4 linked regions of the Homo sapiens genome follow. The protein of the gene in region 2 purifies or fractionates together with the protein of the main gene of each other region. This does not show direct contact. Each region holds a gene or a part of one and is shown on either strand. Other genes may lie near its edges.

Region 1 (3,500 bases), on a different chromosome or scaffold from region 2:
GCGGTGGCTCACGCCTATAATCCCTGCACTTTGGGAGGCTGAGGGTGGCAGATCACGAGGTCAAGAGATCGAGACCATCCTGGCCAACATGGTGAAACCTCGTCTCCACTAAAAATACAAAAATTAGCTGGGCGTGGTGGCGTGTGCCTGTAATCCCAGCTACTTGGGAGGCTGAGGTAGGAGAATCACTTGAACCCAGGAGGTGGAGGGTGCAGTGAGCCGAGATTGCGCCACTGCACTCCAGCCTGGCAACAGAGCGAGACTCTGTCTCAAAAAAAAAAAAGAAAAAGAAAAAAAGAAAAATAAGTTTTTGTTAATGGTTGGGATTTTCTTACTGGCCTCGTGGCAAGTTTTGTTATCTCTTATTATATATATTCTACCTTTTTATGGGAAAAACTACTCTTTTTGGTGTAAAGATATTTTTTATATTTTCTTTGCTTGTAAAGAGTTATTATCAATTTGTAAGTATAAAAACTGCAAGTATAGTTGGTAGTTGATAAGAAAGGTAGATAATAAAACTTAAAAGGGATGGACACAGATTGAAAAAGGCCTTGAGTGCCAAGACAAGAGCTCTGAACTTTAACAGGCACTGGAAACCGTCATAGGTCTTAGGTAGGAATATGCTGTGCTCCCACCATCTTAATTAGGTCTTATGGAGGTTTGATAGCAAGAGGGTAGGAATATCATTTAGCAGGCTACTGCAAGTATCCAGGTGAAATGTACAGAGGTTTTGAACTAGGCTGCTGGGGAGGGTGCAGAGAAGAAATATTTTGGAAATAAAATGGACAGAAAGTGTATAAATGGATAAAGAGAGGAATAGAACTGACACCAGGCTTCAAGCCTGATGCCTGAGAATAAAGGTGTAATTATGAAGGGAATCCAGGAAGACATGGAAAGAGTGGTTGGAGTAAGGTTAAAGTGATAGTTTTAGATTGGGTTATTTTGACGTTGAAGTGTTGACCAACTTCTTAAGTGAAAATGTGCAACAGTCATTGAAAATATGAGTTTGTGGGGGGAGGGGGGAGGGATAGCATTAGGAGATATACCTAATGTAAATGACGAGCTAATGAGTGCAGCACACCAACATGGCACATGTATACATATGTAACAAACCTGCACGTTGTGCACATGTACCCTAGAATAATAAAAAAAAAGAAAAGAAAAAGAAAATATGAGTTTGGCGCTAGGAAGAAGAGTTATCAGGACTAGAGCAAGAGATTAGAGATGTTGTCACAGAGCCTGGGACAGGAAATGGAAGAGTCAGGGGAGAGAAGGGGAGAAATCACTGCTATCACCACCACCAGCAGCAGCAGCACCAGCCCCAGGAAAGAGAGAAGAAATGCCAGGAGATGGGGGCAGGTGGAGAAGGAAGAAGAGGGAGACAGTAGTGAGAGTATAGAGGACATGCGTGGAGAGTTTCCAGAAGAAGACTTGTCTACTTGTGGAAAGCTGAGAAGTTAAGAGAGAGAGGCTTAAAACCATGTCATGAGATTTGGCAGTTGGTTGGGAGAAGACTGGCGAAGTTTAGAGTATAATTTCATTAAAGTAGTGGGGACAGGAGCCAGAATTCAGGAGTTAAAGAGTGATTAGCTGTTGAGGATGCAGAAGTAAGTACATGACACTTTCCAAAATTTGGTGTTGAAAGGGAGGCCAAAGTGGGTGGACAGTTTGGAAGTGATAGGGGGTCAATTTGAGATCACAGGATTTGGGAAGTTCACAGCATGAACTGGTGATGATACCAATCATTGTGGTTTGGTAACGGTCTTCAGCGGTGCTGGAACTTCAGGACTGGGAGCAAGGAAGAAACACAGTGGGACTGTTTGAGGTTTGGTGCTGACATTTTCGGTATGGCAGGAGGCCAAGAGAGGTAAAAATCTCTTGTTCCCTTGACTCTTAGCTAATTTATACATTCTAATATTGACAGAGTCTGTTAACATCACTTGAAAATGAGTTTGGAGGTCCTGAGAGACTCTCACATGTTCCAGACATCACTCTTCCACTTTCTCTCGTGATTCAAAGTACTCGGGCAATATTTGTGTGTCCATAGTTGTCTGGACTGGGGTTATGAAAGGCTCTGGTCCTTTTGAGAAAGTCTGTTGCATACTACTGCAAAATAAAAATTGGAAGGATCTATCTTTTGGCTCTGTATTTTGCAGTTCTCTGTCTCTGTGTGTGTGTGTGTGTTGTGTGTGTGTGTTCGTTCATCTGTCCTTCATGTGCATGAATAGGCATTTCATGGCTAGCCAACATTTTATTGCCTGGTTATGTATACAGCTCCTTTGGCTAAGGATAAAATTGAAAGCATGGTTGTATTACTTTGGATTTTAGAAGCAAATACAGTATACATTTTATCCAAGTAGCATGAAGCATGAGAGAAGACTCACAATGAGGCAAAACAAAGACAGACCATATTGGCGAGAGTGTATACTTTGCCAAGGACCTAGACTCCTGGAGGTCTGTCTTCTCCCATATAATCCTTTTTGTCTATTTTTATGGATTAATGATTTTTCTTTGGCGTTGCCATCTTTCAAGTGCCAAGTTATAAAAGGTCTAATTGAAGCATGAAACACATTTTATTATTTTCCTCCTGCCATTAAATTTGTAAGATGGCTACACCTAGAAAGAAACATTCACTTTCAATCAACATGAGCTTGAGTTCATGGGCCAGCCTTGAGGATATCAAATGGAAACTGCGTAGGAATGTATGAGTATTTCCTTTTAAAATTCTGCTTTTAATTTAGGAAAGCTTTTCATCCCTCTGGGATCATAACCTGTTGTGTATAAAGCCCAACCTAATCAAGGTAGATGGTACTGACAGAATGACATAGTTTGAACTTAAGCAGGAGGTCAGCAGGCAGATTGTTTTTTGCTGTATGTACTGTAGTCACTAACAGCCGGACTGGGCAGCTGGTTTTACCAGCAGCATTGTTAAATGGAAAATATGGTATATTATGCCCCATGAAACCAACCATAGATTTTCCAAACGTTTAGACTTTTTTGAGTGGAGTCAGATGTTTATGGATGATATAATGACTTGCCAGCTATAATAAACAAAAATAAACATTGTAGCATATCCTCAGTCTATTGAATATTTTCCAGAAATAGTTCATGATCTCTATTATTCATATATTATCAAATTCAATAAAAAGCATTTTAATACATTTTGTCACCTTATATTTTGTGTTCCTGGATTTGTGCTTCATGGTTATACCAAGAGCAAATCGTGTGTGTTCATTTTGTCACCTTATATTTTGTGTTCCTGGATTTGTGCTTCATGGTTATACCAAGAACAAATCGTGTATGTGTGTGTGTGTGTGTGTGTGTGTATAAAATAAAATAATATGTAAACATTTACAAATAAACCTGGAACTGTTAGAAAAGAAAACCCTGCCCAGTTTTTCATGTTTAAGATTTCCAGATGAAAAACTTAAATTCATAATAAATAACATTTCAAATGTCAGTTCTCCAAAGAGAAACTATTAATTACCCTGTTATGGCTG
Region 2 (5,961 bases):
GCTGGCTGAACAACTACATTCGAAGACCTGTGGTCAACCGACAGAAAGGTTTGAAACAGCGTGCCACGTGGTTCTGCCTTCTCATAAAACATGTTAAGACTTGGACAAAGACACAGAAGGCTTAGTTATCAAATGTGCAAGCTGTATGAGGTTGGAAAGCCTTATTAACATCGTAGATGACAGAATCAAGATTTAAAACAAGGCTATGAAACCAACCAGATAACATTTAATAGGGTGGATGTAAAGTTTTACATGAGGTTATTAAAAAAAAAAAAACTCAGTGGTGCAAGTACTCACTGGAAAATTTGGTTCGACTGTAGTTGACATGAAAACCACCTGGGGGCTTTTATGAACCCCAAACTAGTGTGATGTGGCTATAATAAAGCTAGGGCAAACTTAAGTTTTGCTAACAAAAAAATAGGGTTCAAATCTAGGGGAAGAGAAAATAACCCTAATGTTGACCATTAACAAGAAATTATGGTATACTCATGAAATGGAACACCAGTCAGCAATAAACAAACTACAGATACAGATAACAACGTGGAGAAGCCTCAAAAACATGACACTGTGCAGAGACAGACCTAGAAGAGTACATGCTCTATGATTCCATTTATATGAGTTCCAGAACAGGCAAAGCTCATCTATGACGCTAGAAATTAGAAAAGTGGTTGTCTTTTGGGGTGCGGACTGACTAAAAGGGGCTGAGAAAGAACTTTCTGGTATGAGGGAAATGTCTGTATCTTTTTCTTTTCTTTTTTTTTTTTTTTTTTTGTTAAATTTTTTTTGTATGACTTAACACGAGAGGAAATGTCTGTACCTTGATTGAAATGTTGAGTTCAAGGGCAGACATGTCATAAAACCTGTGAAATTGTACTTTCAAGATGTGTGCCTATCTCTCTATAGGCATTTTATCTCAATTAAAACACTTCTAGGGGAGCAGCACCCCGGTGTGTTCTATGTTGGCCAGAGGCCATCGAAAACAGGGAGTTCAGCTCTGGACACGTACATGAAGAGAAGATCACCAACACAGAGGGCAAGGAAAGCACCTGGAAGTGGGAGGAGTTTGGGAGCTCCACCACACACAGCTCAAAGGAGGAAACTGGCTGTGCTGGGCTTGGATACAGACACTCTTCCAGGGCAAGAAGAGCCAACTACTTTCTTTTTATGTTTTTTGAGACAGAGTTTCGTTCTGTTGCCCAGACCGGAGTGCAGTGGTGCAATCCCGGCTCACTGCAACCTCCTCCTTCCAAGTTCAAGTGATTCTCCTGCCTCAGCCTCCCGAGTAGCTGGGACTACAGGTGCATGCCACCACACCCAGTTAATTTTGTAATTTTAGTAGAGACAGGGTTTCACCATGTTGGCCAGGCTGGTCTTGAACTCCTGACCTCAGGTGATCCACCCACCGTGGCCTCCCGAAGTCCTGAGATTACAGGCGTGAGCCACTGTGCCCGGCCGACAAAGTTCTTTACTTAAGGACAACTATGCACTAAAAGTCAAAACTGGTGTTTATTGTGTTCCCACCATAGCAGTCATTTTGTATAGGTAAAGTGATTGGATCTACATATTCCTCCATAATATTGCTCTATTATATACTAGTGATACACAGCCATATGCTACATAAAGACATTTCTGTCAATGATTCCACATTTAAAACCATGGTCCCATAAGATTATAGTGGAACATATACAGAAACCTGATACATGGCCCTTGATATTGGCATTGCAGATCAAGTAGGGGAAATGACTGACATTCAGTAATAATGCTGTGACATTTGGTATTTCATGTGAAAATATACATGTAAATAAAAATACATATAACATCTAGGTTTGTGTAAGTACATTCTATAATGTTTACACAATGACAGAATTGCCTAGTGACACATTTCTAAGAATGTATCCCCATCGTTAAGCAATGCATGACTGTAATTATACTAGACGTTCTGGTATGATTCATTCATCATTTCCAATGCTCACAATGGCTCTGCAAGGTAGACCTCATTAAACCCATTTTATCTCCATTTTACAGACAAGAAGATGTAGGCTCAGAGACAGTAAACAGCTCAAATTGACAGAACTGGGATTTAAACCCAGACTGTCTCCAAAGCTGACATTCTTTTTTTATCTACAACTCACTACTCCTTGGCTCTTGATTTTAAGTGTGTGTTAGGATCCTTGCAGTAAATCACAATATCTGTGTCATTCAAAATACACTTTAATTATCAACTATATTGGATTAAAGGGGAAAAAAGTACACTTTAATATTGACTATCACTGGCAAAGCTAAGTTTGGCAAGCAAATGAGTGGGTAGAGAGCAGAGGAGTGAATGGACTCCTGTCTCCAGGATGCCTTTTCCTTCCTGAAGATGATCTGAGCACACAAGGTCCCCAAGCTGGGCCACAGTCCAGACTAGAGTCTTCCCAGATACATGGGTCACTCTGACTATTCTTGCCTGGTGGGGCAACACGGGTCCCTCCTTAGCAGAAGTGACGCTGGGGAGGGCACCTGCTTCCTGCCGTCTTAAGGACAGTGACCCCGGCTCTGTCTCCCACTCTGCACTTGCACCTTACCTCGTCTTTGAAGAGGCGTGCTTGGTCCTCACAACCTGTCAGGGTCTGAACAAAGCCGAAGACCTTGGAAACCAAAGATGACATGTTGACCAGGGGACAGAGCTTAGGCATGTAGGGAGAGCTGGCCTCCACAGCCTAGGTGCTTCTGAGCTGTGCCAATGCTGCTTTTTCTCACCAGCCTAAAAGGATCCTAGGGTTTCTATGCTGGCAGATGTGCCAAGTTGGGCCCCTTGCTTCTGAGGCCTGGGACCGAAGCCTGCCTCTCCTGCTGGATTTCTGGCTGAAACAGCAGCACAGCCCCCGCCCCCTCTGCCATAATGGACCTATCAGGAAGGGTCTCAGTCAGCCCCTACTGGGCAGCTAGAAGGGACTGTGCACAGGACAGATGAGCAAGAGGTAGTGCCAGGAGTGGTACCGGGTTCTACCTGACCTGGGCCTTTCCACCAGGGTATGGTGAGAGGGAGGAGGAGAGGAAGAGAAGGATAAAGAAGGGCCCTCGCTCCTCACCTCATCGATGGTCCACTTGGCGACTGTCGAGGCTGAGATGCCCGCTACTCCTGGCAGGAGCTTGCAGTGCTGCTCCCAGCACACTGAGAGTGAGCGGTCAGGGTGGGCCGACAGGGCTGACATGAAGAGGGACTGGTGCACGACATCGGGCGTGAGGGCTGGAAAGCAGAGGCAGAGGCTGGCAGGCCAACGAGGATGACTAAACTGTTCCCGAAGCCCATGCATACCCACACCACTCAGGAGACTGGCTGGCAGAGTAGACAGGACTCCGGGCCCCTTCTGACAGCCTGTAGAGTCAAGAGGGTGAGCCGTATCTCCTGACTCCTCACACAGTGTTCACTCCTGCTGGTAAAGTGACTCTCTTAAAGACTCTCAGGTCAGCTATTCGGAATGACCCTCACCCCGTCTCTCTGAGGCTGCACCACCCTGGGCCCTGCAAGGATACTCTCTTGGAGCTGCTGCAGCATCTCTAAAGACATAATTTTCTAGATGCCAACCATCAAAAGGGTCCTTAACATCCAAACAAGCTCAGCCTTGATGTCAGAAGTCCACTCTGTTTACTCTTCTTCTCATGAGTCCTTCCGGGCCACGACCAACTTTCTCAGAGCCAGGGTGATTCTGCTTCAGAATCACAGTCCCCCTGACCAGGCTGAAGACCACCCCTCTGGCCACTGCCATTGCCTCAAGCTCCAGTTCCTCCCCTTCCTCCACCAGCCCGGTCTGTACTACTGCCTATGCCAGCACTAGAGGGTGATCCCTGACCCACTCCCCAGCTCCATGTTGCCTGTGGCTTTGCTTCCTGGTCTGCCTCTGGGATCACTGGCCCCAACCTCCTACCTCAAGCAGCTGTACTGAGCTGATGACCGATGCTGCTCAGCTTGGCCTCCCCCTTGGTGGGGCCTGGCACGTGCCAACTTGGACTTCATCCCCCTCTGGCTGCTTTGACAAACCTGGCCCCACTCACTGCTGTCAGCCTTGGCCGGCCTTGTGCAATGTGGCCACTTTCCCAAGGGGTTTTCCCAGCCTCTGTCCATGGTCCAGGAGCATTGGCTCTTTATTCTCCTGGTGCTAATTCCAGATGCTCATCAATGCAGCACCTCCAAGTGCCCTCTTGTCAAAGACCCTCCCTGTTGGTCACAGATTGTCCTGCCCTCTCTCCCTGAGTGTCAGCCTTTCAGCCTGGCTTTTCCACCTCCATTCACCCACAAAGCCTCTGGGATTCCATCCTCAGCCCTACCAACCACACTTCTGTGCCACTGCCTTCCTGCTGCTCTCTCTGTTCATCAGCGAAATCCTAATACCTGCCCATACCCCAGACAGCCCCATCTCCCTGCTCAGCCAGCTCCTCTCATGGCCCGTCTGGGGCACACTCAGCATCTCTCATGACAGCTAGCACCACTAGCACCTCATCTACCTGGCCACAGGTTTGGCCTCTGGTACACCCAGGTACTCCCTCTCTGAAACCCTGTATCTGGGTTTCATACCCTGGGGTGGGGTTTGGGAGACAACATCAAGTTTGTAGGGAGCTTTTCTCCTTATCTTTCTTCCCCAGAGCACAGGGAAGAGCACAGGCCAGGAGTGCTTACCAGCAGTTACAGTGTCTTATCTAACTGCAGACCATCCAGTTGCAGGTCAGACATGGCTCCTCAGTTCCTTCAGTAGCTGACACTCCTAGGCCTAAAGACTAAGCCCAGCCAAGCCCTGTCCTCTCCGGGCAGATCTTCCTATGGAATTGTTCACCAGCAAACCTCAGAGCCTACACTAAGGAGGTCTACCCACCAGTATGTAAGAAGTTGCCTCTGGAACAAAACCCAGAGTGACCAGTGGCTCTTCTGGGTGACAGGCCAGCTAGAAGAGCAGGGGTGCCCTGTGGAAGTGAGACCTGGGCAATGACCCCTGCTCTATCCTTGAAGTGCCTCAAGGATCTGGGTGAGCCCTTCTTTGCCAGTTCCGTGACATAGTCTCAGCCTCTGGAAAGATGTAGCTTCCCAAGAATTCTACAGCCTAATTCTGGGATGAACACAGTAGGCAAGTGCCCTCTGGTGGTCAGAACTTGGTCCTGCAGTGGACTTGACCATGGGTACCACAGATGGGTACAAGAGGTGCCCACTGCAGTTTGATCCTTAGGAGTCCTTACTCTGAGGGTCTAGGTGCTGGCCAAGACCCTCATCACTCAGGTCTGAGGCTGAAGAAACTGCTTCTGTTCCCACAAAGAGGAAACAGTATGAGATGACAGCAAGAGGAAGTGAGGCAAGAGACTCAGACTAATAATACTGGCAGGGAGCTGTGCTAAGCACCTCACATGGAACATCTCAGTTAAGCCTCTCACCACATCATACGGTGGGTACGATTATTATCAGCATTTTACAGATAAGGAAGGTGAGGCTCAGAGAGGAGTGTCACCCACCCAAGATCTCTCAGCCTGTAAAAGGTAGTCTGACTTCAGGGCTATGCTTTTTATCACTATGTTACTTACTGCCCAGGTTACAGAGACTGTTCTTGAAGAATTGGGACAGCTTGGGTCTCGCCAAGGTGCACTAAACCAGGTGATTTCTCAAGGTCTCTTTTAGCCTTAAAATGACATGCATTCCATTCAACTGAGGCGTCCCTGCTGTGCATCAGGCCCTGTACTAGTGGCTGAAGATGTAAGATGAATTCACCACCTAGGGGAGGGCTCAGCCACTATGCCCCTCCCGCTGAAGTATGTTATGGGCTAAAATGTGTCCCCGCAAAATTCATATGCTGAAGCCCTAACCCCCAGTGCCTCTGAATGGGACTGCATTTGGAAAAAGGGCCTTTAAAGAGTGATTAAGTTAAAATGAAGTCATTAGGATGGGCCCTAATCCAATTCAATTGGTATCCTTACAAGAAGAGACACTTTGGACAC
Region 3 (2,360 bases), on a different chromosome or scaffold from region 2:
AAACCTTTCAAATGTGAGGAATGTGACAGCATCTTCAAGTGGTTCTCAGACCTTACTAAACATAAGAGAATTCACACTGGTGAGAAACCATACAAATGTGACGAATGTGGGAAAGCCTATACACAGTCCTCACACCTCAGTGAACACAGGAGGATTCACACCGGAGAGAAACCCTACCAATGTGAAGAATGTGGGAAGGTCTTCAGAACTTGCTCAAGCCTTTCTAACCATAAGAGAACTCATTCTGAAGAAAAACCCTACACGTGTGAAGAATGTGGCAACATCTTTAAGCAGTTATCAGACCTCACTAAGCATAAGAAAACCCATACTGGAGAGAAGCCCTACAAATGTGACGAATGTGGAAAAAACTTTACCCAGTCCTCCAACCTTATTGTACATAAGAGAATTCATACTGGAGAGAAACCCTACAAGTGTGAAGAATGTGGCAGAGTCTTCATGTGGTTCTCAGACATTACCAAACATAAGAAAACCCATACTGGAGAGAAACCCTACAAATGTGACGAATGTGGAAAAAACTTTACCCAGTCCTCAAACCTTATTGTACATAAGAGAATTCATACTGGAGAGAAACCCTACAAGTGTGAAAAGTGTGGCAAAGCCTTCACCCAGTTCTCACACCTGACTGTACATGAAAGCATTCATACTTGAGAAAAAAATAAACAAATATAAAAATAGGCAAAGCCGTTAGTATCTGCTCGCATCCCACTTTACATCAGAGTTCAGACTTAATAAAGTTATCATAAATGTAATTACTATTGAAAGACCTTTCATGAAATATAAGTCTCCAGAGCACACAAGAGTATTTCTTCTGAAAAAAATGTTACAATTATACTAGATGGAAGACTTGCATCAGTTGCTTAAACTTTCAGAAAATTTGTAGAGAAACCCAACAAATCTCATAAATGTGGAATAACATTTGTTCAAAAATGATAGCTTAGAAAACACTAGAGTTCATACTAAAAGATATTTTGCAAATACACTAAATGGGAAAAATAAGCAAGGACACGTTCAGAAATGACACTGAATCCCTGTGTTGAGTCTACAGAGACATCTAGACTTAAAATAGATCATTTATATTTAAGTTTAAAAGGAGGATGAGACTGAGTTTTTGTAGAGTTATAATTACATTCAAAATATACTTTTTTGCATTGAAAAAATGTTAAATTTTTGAAAAGCGAATATTGATGTCATTCTATTCTCAAATCAGTAGATGCTGTGTCTTCATTTCTAGTGCTGATGTGAAAACACATGGTCAGTTGTTGCTGCGTCAGAGATATGAGAAATTCTTTTCTCTTAGGTGTGCATCACTGATATACTTGTCCGTGAAAGGTGAAAGACACTGAAATGTAAGATGCGTGAGTAAAATCTTGGTAGAGAGGCTCTTTGTGGTTGTTTTATATACTTGTAAGTGATTTATGAGATAGGTGTTTAGAATAATACTCTTCTGTTAGGGTCACCCTGATCAGACCGTTCCCTTCCCCTCCCACAGGACTTACAATACGGTCCCTTGTGCTCTCTGCACAGCTACCCCAGGGCAAAAAACAAACCCCCCTTCACTGATCCCTCCAGTAACTGTGCAGACAGTTACAGGATGCGGTTAACATGTCTGTTCACCTCGCATAACAAAGCTGGCAAAAAACATCTCCAGGATGCAGACAAGACACCTGCACCCTCGACTAAGCTCCCCCACCCCAACCCAGTTCTCCTGCACCCCCAACTCAGCTCCCGCACCCCGACCTAGTTCTGGCCCTATAAAAACCTGCTATAGTCTGTAAGCAGGGCTGCCTCCTCTAACTGTGGTGGAGCAGCCAAGCAGCTCAATAAAGCTTGCTTGCCTGACTTTGGGTCTCTTCATCCTTTCTCTTGGCTGACCTTACATTTCTGGTGCCGAAACCCGGAAAGGTGATAGAGTTCGGCCTCCCTTTCTCCCTTTCTCTTTCTCTCCCTCCTTCCCCTGGCTGAACTCCCCCTTCCAGAACCTGCTAGAGACCCAAGGATCTCATACATACTTTCCATTGCTGGCGAACACATCCAACACCAGGGCCTCCTCAGGGTTGAGTAAAGGAGACTTTCGCCTTGTGTCTGGAACCCTTGTCTGCTCTTTCCTTCCTAAAAGACCCAGCACTGGGCCAAGGGTTTCCTCCTCCTGGCCTCCAGGAGGCCCTCGATATCTCCTATCAAGGATGCCTGAACTGGGGATTATCGCACTTCTCCGACTTGAACTGTGGGACAAGGGACGCGTTCTCCCACCATTCTAGTCTCCGGCCAAGTCTCCCATCTCTACCCCTCCCTTTCTCATTCCACTATGGGAGCCTTCCAATCCCCTCCCTCAAAGACAT
Region 4 (3,500 bases), on a different chromosome or scaffold from region 2:
AAAAAAAAAAAAGGAACCCCCAAAGGAAACTGGTTTCAAAAAATATAATCAACAATGAAATACTACGCAGCTATTAAGAAGAGTGGGTAGATCTGTATGCTTTGATATGGAAGGAGTGCTAAGATTTAGCCAAAAACAGCAAGATGTAGACTAATATGTATGCATATATGTCATTCCCTTCATGTACGTTTTGTAAAGGAATTATATTACGTTGCTTGCTGTATCCATTTTGGAAGGAACCACGTGGTACTATTAATGGTGGTCACTGTGGGGAAGGACTAAGGAGAGGGAAGGGAAACAGACTTTATTTTATACCTTTGCATTTAAAAAATCACATAACTATTATTCTCACTAAAATTTTTTTTTAAGCCATGTAGGTTAGTACCTACAAATATATAATTTTTTAAACCAAGGAATCTAGAGTAGAAAGATGGGCTGCAAATGGATAATTATTACATCAAGCAGACAGTTATAAAGGCAGAAACGAAGAACTACAAGGAACAATACAAGGCTGATTACTTTTGACCAAAAAGATTTTTAAAAAATCAAAATAGAACAAAAGAAAACTTCATGGAGGAAGATATTTTTGAACAAGGCCTTGCATTTCAAAGGGAAAAAAAAGAACACTCCAGACAGAAGGAAAAGCAGGAACAGGGCACAGGGGAATGCAAACAGCGTCTGGGGTAGAGCAGGCAGCATGCAGTGGCCCCAGCTCAGGGACAAGGAAGGCCATGGAAGGAGAAGGCCACAGTCAGAAGGTGGAGGGCCTTGAATACTCAGAGAACTCAAACAGAATTCTGGCGGCAGCACCTGGAGACTGAGGCATGGTGTCTACTCGGAGGCCACGTAGCTCAGCCAGGACAAGCTGGGCTCAGGTTTTTCACGGGGTCGTGGGAAATATGGGGCTGGAGCTAGAGAGAAATATTAGACCCGAAGATACTGATTTGGGAGTGACTGTGTACTGACTGAGGATCGTTTTGGTAAAATGAGGTTACTCGGGGAGGGAAAAAAAAAAGAGAGAAGGCTGAGAATAGAAAGGGTGTTTGCTCCTAGAAAAGAGGAATGGAAACACAGCACCTGATGAAGGGGGTAACATCCTCACCTAGCCCTCTCCTCAAGCCTTTCCACTGACTAGTTTTGTTTTTGTTTTGTTTTGAGACAGAGTCTTGCTCTGTGCCCAGGCTGGAGTGCAGTGGTGCAATCTCGGCTCACTGTAACCTCCGCCACCCAGGTTCAAGTGATTCTCATGCCTCAGCCTCCTGAGTAGCTGGGATTACAGGCATGTGCCACCACATTCAGCTAATTTTTGTGTTTTTAGTAGAGACAGGGTTTTACCATGTTGACCAGTCTGGTCTCGAACTCCTGGCCTCAAGGGATCCGCCTGCCTCAGCCTCCCAAAGTGCTGGGATTACAGGAATGAGCTACTGCGCCCGGCCCCATTGGCTAGTATCTTTAAGTAAAATTCTGCACCACGTATTCTGTTAAGCTGTGAGGAAATGCAACAATGGAAAACTAATGACATCCTCTCACACTGCTGACCCATTCTGCAGAGAACCTAAAAATAAGAAGGGACTCTCAGATGCCATCTGGGCAAAACACCCACCTGGGCCTTAAAATCTCCTCTACAACTTTCTTGGATAAAGCCTTGGAACTGTCTCCACATATCAACAACCAGAACAAAAGTAAAAATGTAAAAGCTGAACAATTAGAAATGTGCTGATTCTGTGAGACTCCTCACTGCTGAGCTTCCACTCCTGGCGGTGAGCTCTCTGAGGGCAGGGACTGCGTGCCCAGAGCCCAGCAGTGTGTCTGGGGCAGAGAGGCTCTCAGTACATGTCAACTAAAACAAGCTGGTGGCTCAAGATCCATGGACTGCCACTACAGCCGCACCCTCAGCTCTGAACTTTTCCTTCTGGAGACCCCAGAGATGCGGGATCGTCTCTGCCCACAGCAAAATCTAGCACGGTGGCTTATTCCAACCTAACCCATAAACAGTCTAATTTGCTCCACAAGATGCTACACTTTGTTTAAAAATATCCAGTTACACTTCCAAGAAAAGAAAGGAAAGTTACAAATTTGGAAGTTGTTTAAGGCACCAGGAGGTACCCATTATTCTCAATCAAGATGCTCATGATTCCAAACCCAGATTTGCACCTGCTGGCTTCAGTCATTTGCTGATACCTGAGACACAGCTCAAACGAGGCTTTCTCTGGCAGGCACTGGAAACCTGAAGATCCCTAATTTTCATTTTCATACAAAGTCATTAAAAAGACCACAGACTGAAGCACCGCAGACAAAAGGCATGGTAACAGAAGTAACAATTATATAAAAATAACTTTTCTAGGTATTTCTGCCTGGGTCTAGATTAAAACCAAAATTGAGCTGTCATGAGCTACAATCTAATCTTTTAGAAAGCAGCAGTCAAATAACACCAGGGCTGTGTGAAACATTCTGGTGCTACTGAAACCCAATGCAAGAAAAAAAAAATAAATAAAATGGCATTCTGTGATGGATATTCATGAAGCACTCATCCTAATTTAAAAGAAAACAAGTTTAGAGTTCTTACTGCATTAATTCATGTGAGCCTGAAAGAACATTTTTATCCAAACTGTTACATTTCCTACCAAGGCGTTAACATTCTCCAGGTCTGCTCAGATACACTAATTCCAAGAGGGTGCGATTTGTCTTTTAGTCAATGCAAAACATCATCAGAAGCTTCTTCTGAGCTTTCCAAGCAGGAGAGGAATGGCCTCTTTAATTTTACTAGCAATGACAAGGACTAACGGTCAGTAGGCTCCTACTGTGTACAGTATGGTAAGTAAGCTCTTAGACGACACTAAGAGGCTGCAGTTATCCCCATTCTACAGACGAGGAAGCAAACCCAGAGAGGCTGAGAAACTTACCCAAGGTCACTCAGCTAATGACTGGCTGAGCCAGGATTTGGACCTAGATTTGTCAGTCTCAGACTCAGAACTCTTATCTCTTATAAGAGTAAGATTTTAATCCAGGCATACTGGTGAGATGCAGGATTTTTATTGGTGCTGGATTCTTACTGATCAACTCCGAGTAGAAAGAGAATTCTCATTTAAGGATGTTCCACCACACAGACAAAGTCAGGCTGGGTCTGACACTGTGATGATTAAGGGGTCACAATATGTTGTACTTCAAGTGGTTTGCAGTCATTTCTTTGCAAAATGTCCCTTATTTTTACTTCTGTCAGTGAAGTAGGAAAAAAGATGTTTCATATTTTAATCATTAATTGAGAGGATTTGTTTCAGATAAAATAAGCTTTCTTAAGGCAAATAACTAAAAAATAGTAAGGCACAGCATCTTATCTGCTTACTGCTGGCTAGCATTTCAGGGGCACTGGCCCTGGAAAATACATTAAGTCCTGCCTCTTATGACAAAAGGATTAGAAAAGCTCACCTTGACTTGCATTCTTCCATGAGGTTTTCCTTGCCATCAACATCAACCAGAAAATAACCATTAGAAATTTAACT

Evidence for each region.
Region 1: the proteins of L3MBTL1 (region 2) and SATB2 purify together in Homo sapiens (affinity purification with mass spectrometry; 2 studies listed by BioGRID and IntAct, with this or other methods). This does not show direct contact.
Region 3: the proteins of L3MBTL1 (region 2) and ZNF195 purify together in Homo sapiens (affinity purification with mass spectrometry; 2 studies listed by BioGRID and IntAct, with this or other methods). This does not show direct contact.
Region 4: the proteins of L3MBTL1 (region 2) and ZBTB34 purify together in Homo sapiens (affinity purification with mass spectrometry; one large-scale study listed by BioGRID and IntAct). This does not show direct contact.

What each region holds. Positions count from the first base shown.
Region 1 is NC_000002.12:199,342,940-199,346,439, reverse strand, and holds part of SATB2 (DNA-binding protein SATB2), read left to right. Parts: intron 1-3,500. UniProt on the Homo sapiens protein: Binds to DNA, at nuclear matrix- or scaffold-associated regions. Thought to recognize the sugar-phosphate structure of double-stranded DNA.
Region 2 is NC_000020.11:43,537,422-43,543,382, reverse strand, and holds the end of L3MBTL1 (lethal(3)malignant brain tumor-like protein 1), read right to left. Parts: intron 3,362-5,961; exon of another isoform or gene 3,233-3,361; coding exon 3,075-3,232; intron 2,631-3,074; coding exon 2,568-2,630; coding exon of another isoform or gene 2,475-2,567; exon of another isoform or gene 2,450-2,474; coding exon 2,255-2,449; 3' UTR 1,488-2,254; downstream 1-1,487. UniProt on the Homo sapiens protein: Polycomb group (PcG) protein that specifically recognizes and binds mono- and dimethyllysine residues on target proteins, thereby acting as a 'reader' of a network of post-translational modifications.
Region 3 is NC_000011.10:3,357,427-3,359,786, reverse strand, and holds the end of ZNF195 (zinc finger protein 195), read left to right. Parts: coding exon 1-669; 3' UTR 670-1,860; downstream 1,861-2,360. UniProt on the Homo sapiens protein: May be involved in transcriptional regulation.
Region 4 is NC_000009.12:126,863,639-126,867,138, reverse strand, and holds part of ZBTB34 (zinc finger and BTB domain-containing protein 34), read right to left. Parts: exon of another isoform or gene 3,447-3,500; coding exon of another isoform or gene 3,427-3,446; intron 1-3,426. UniProt on the Homo sapiens protein: May be a transcriptional repressor.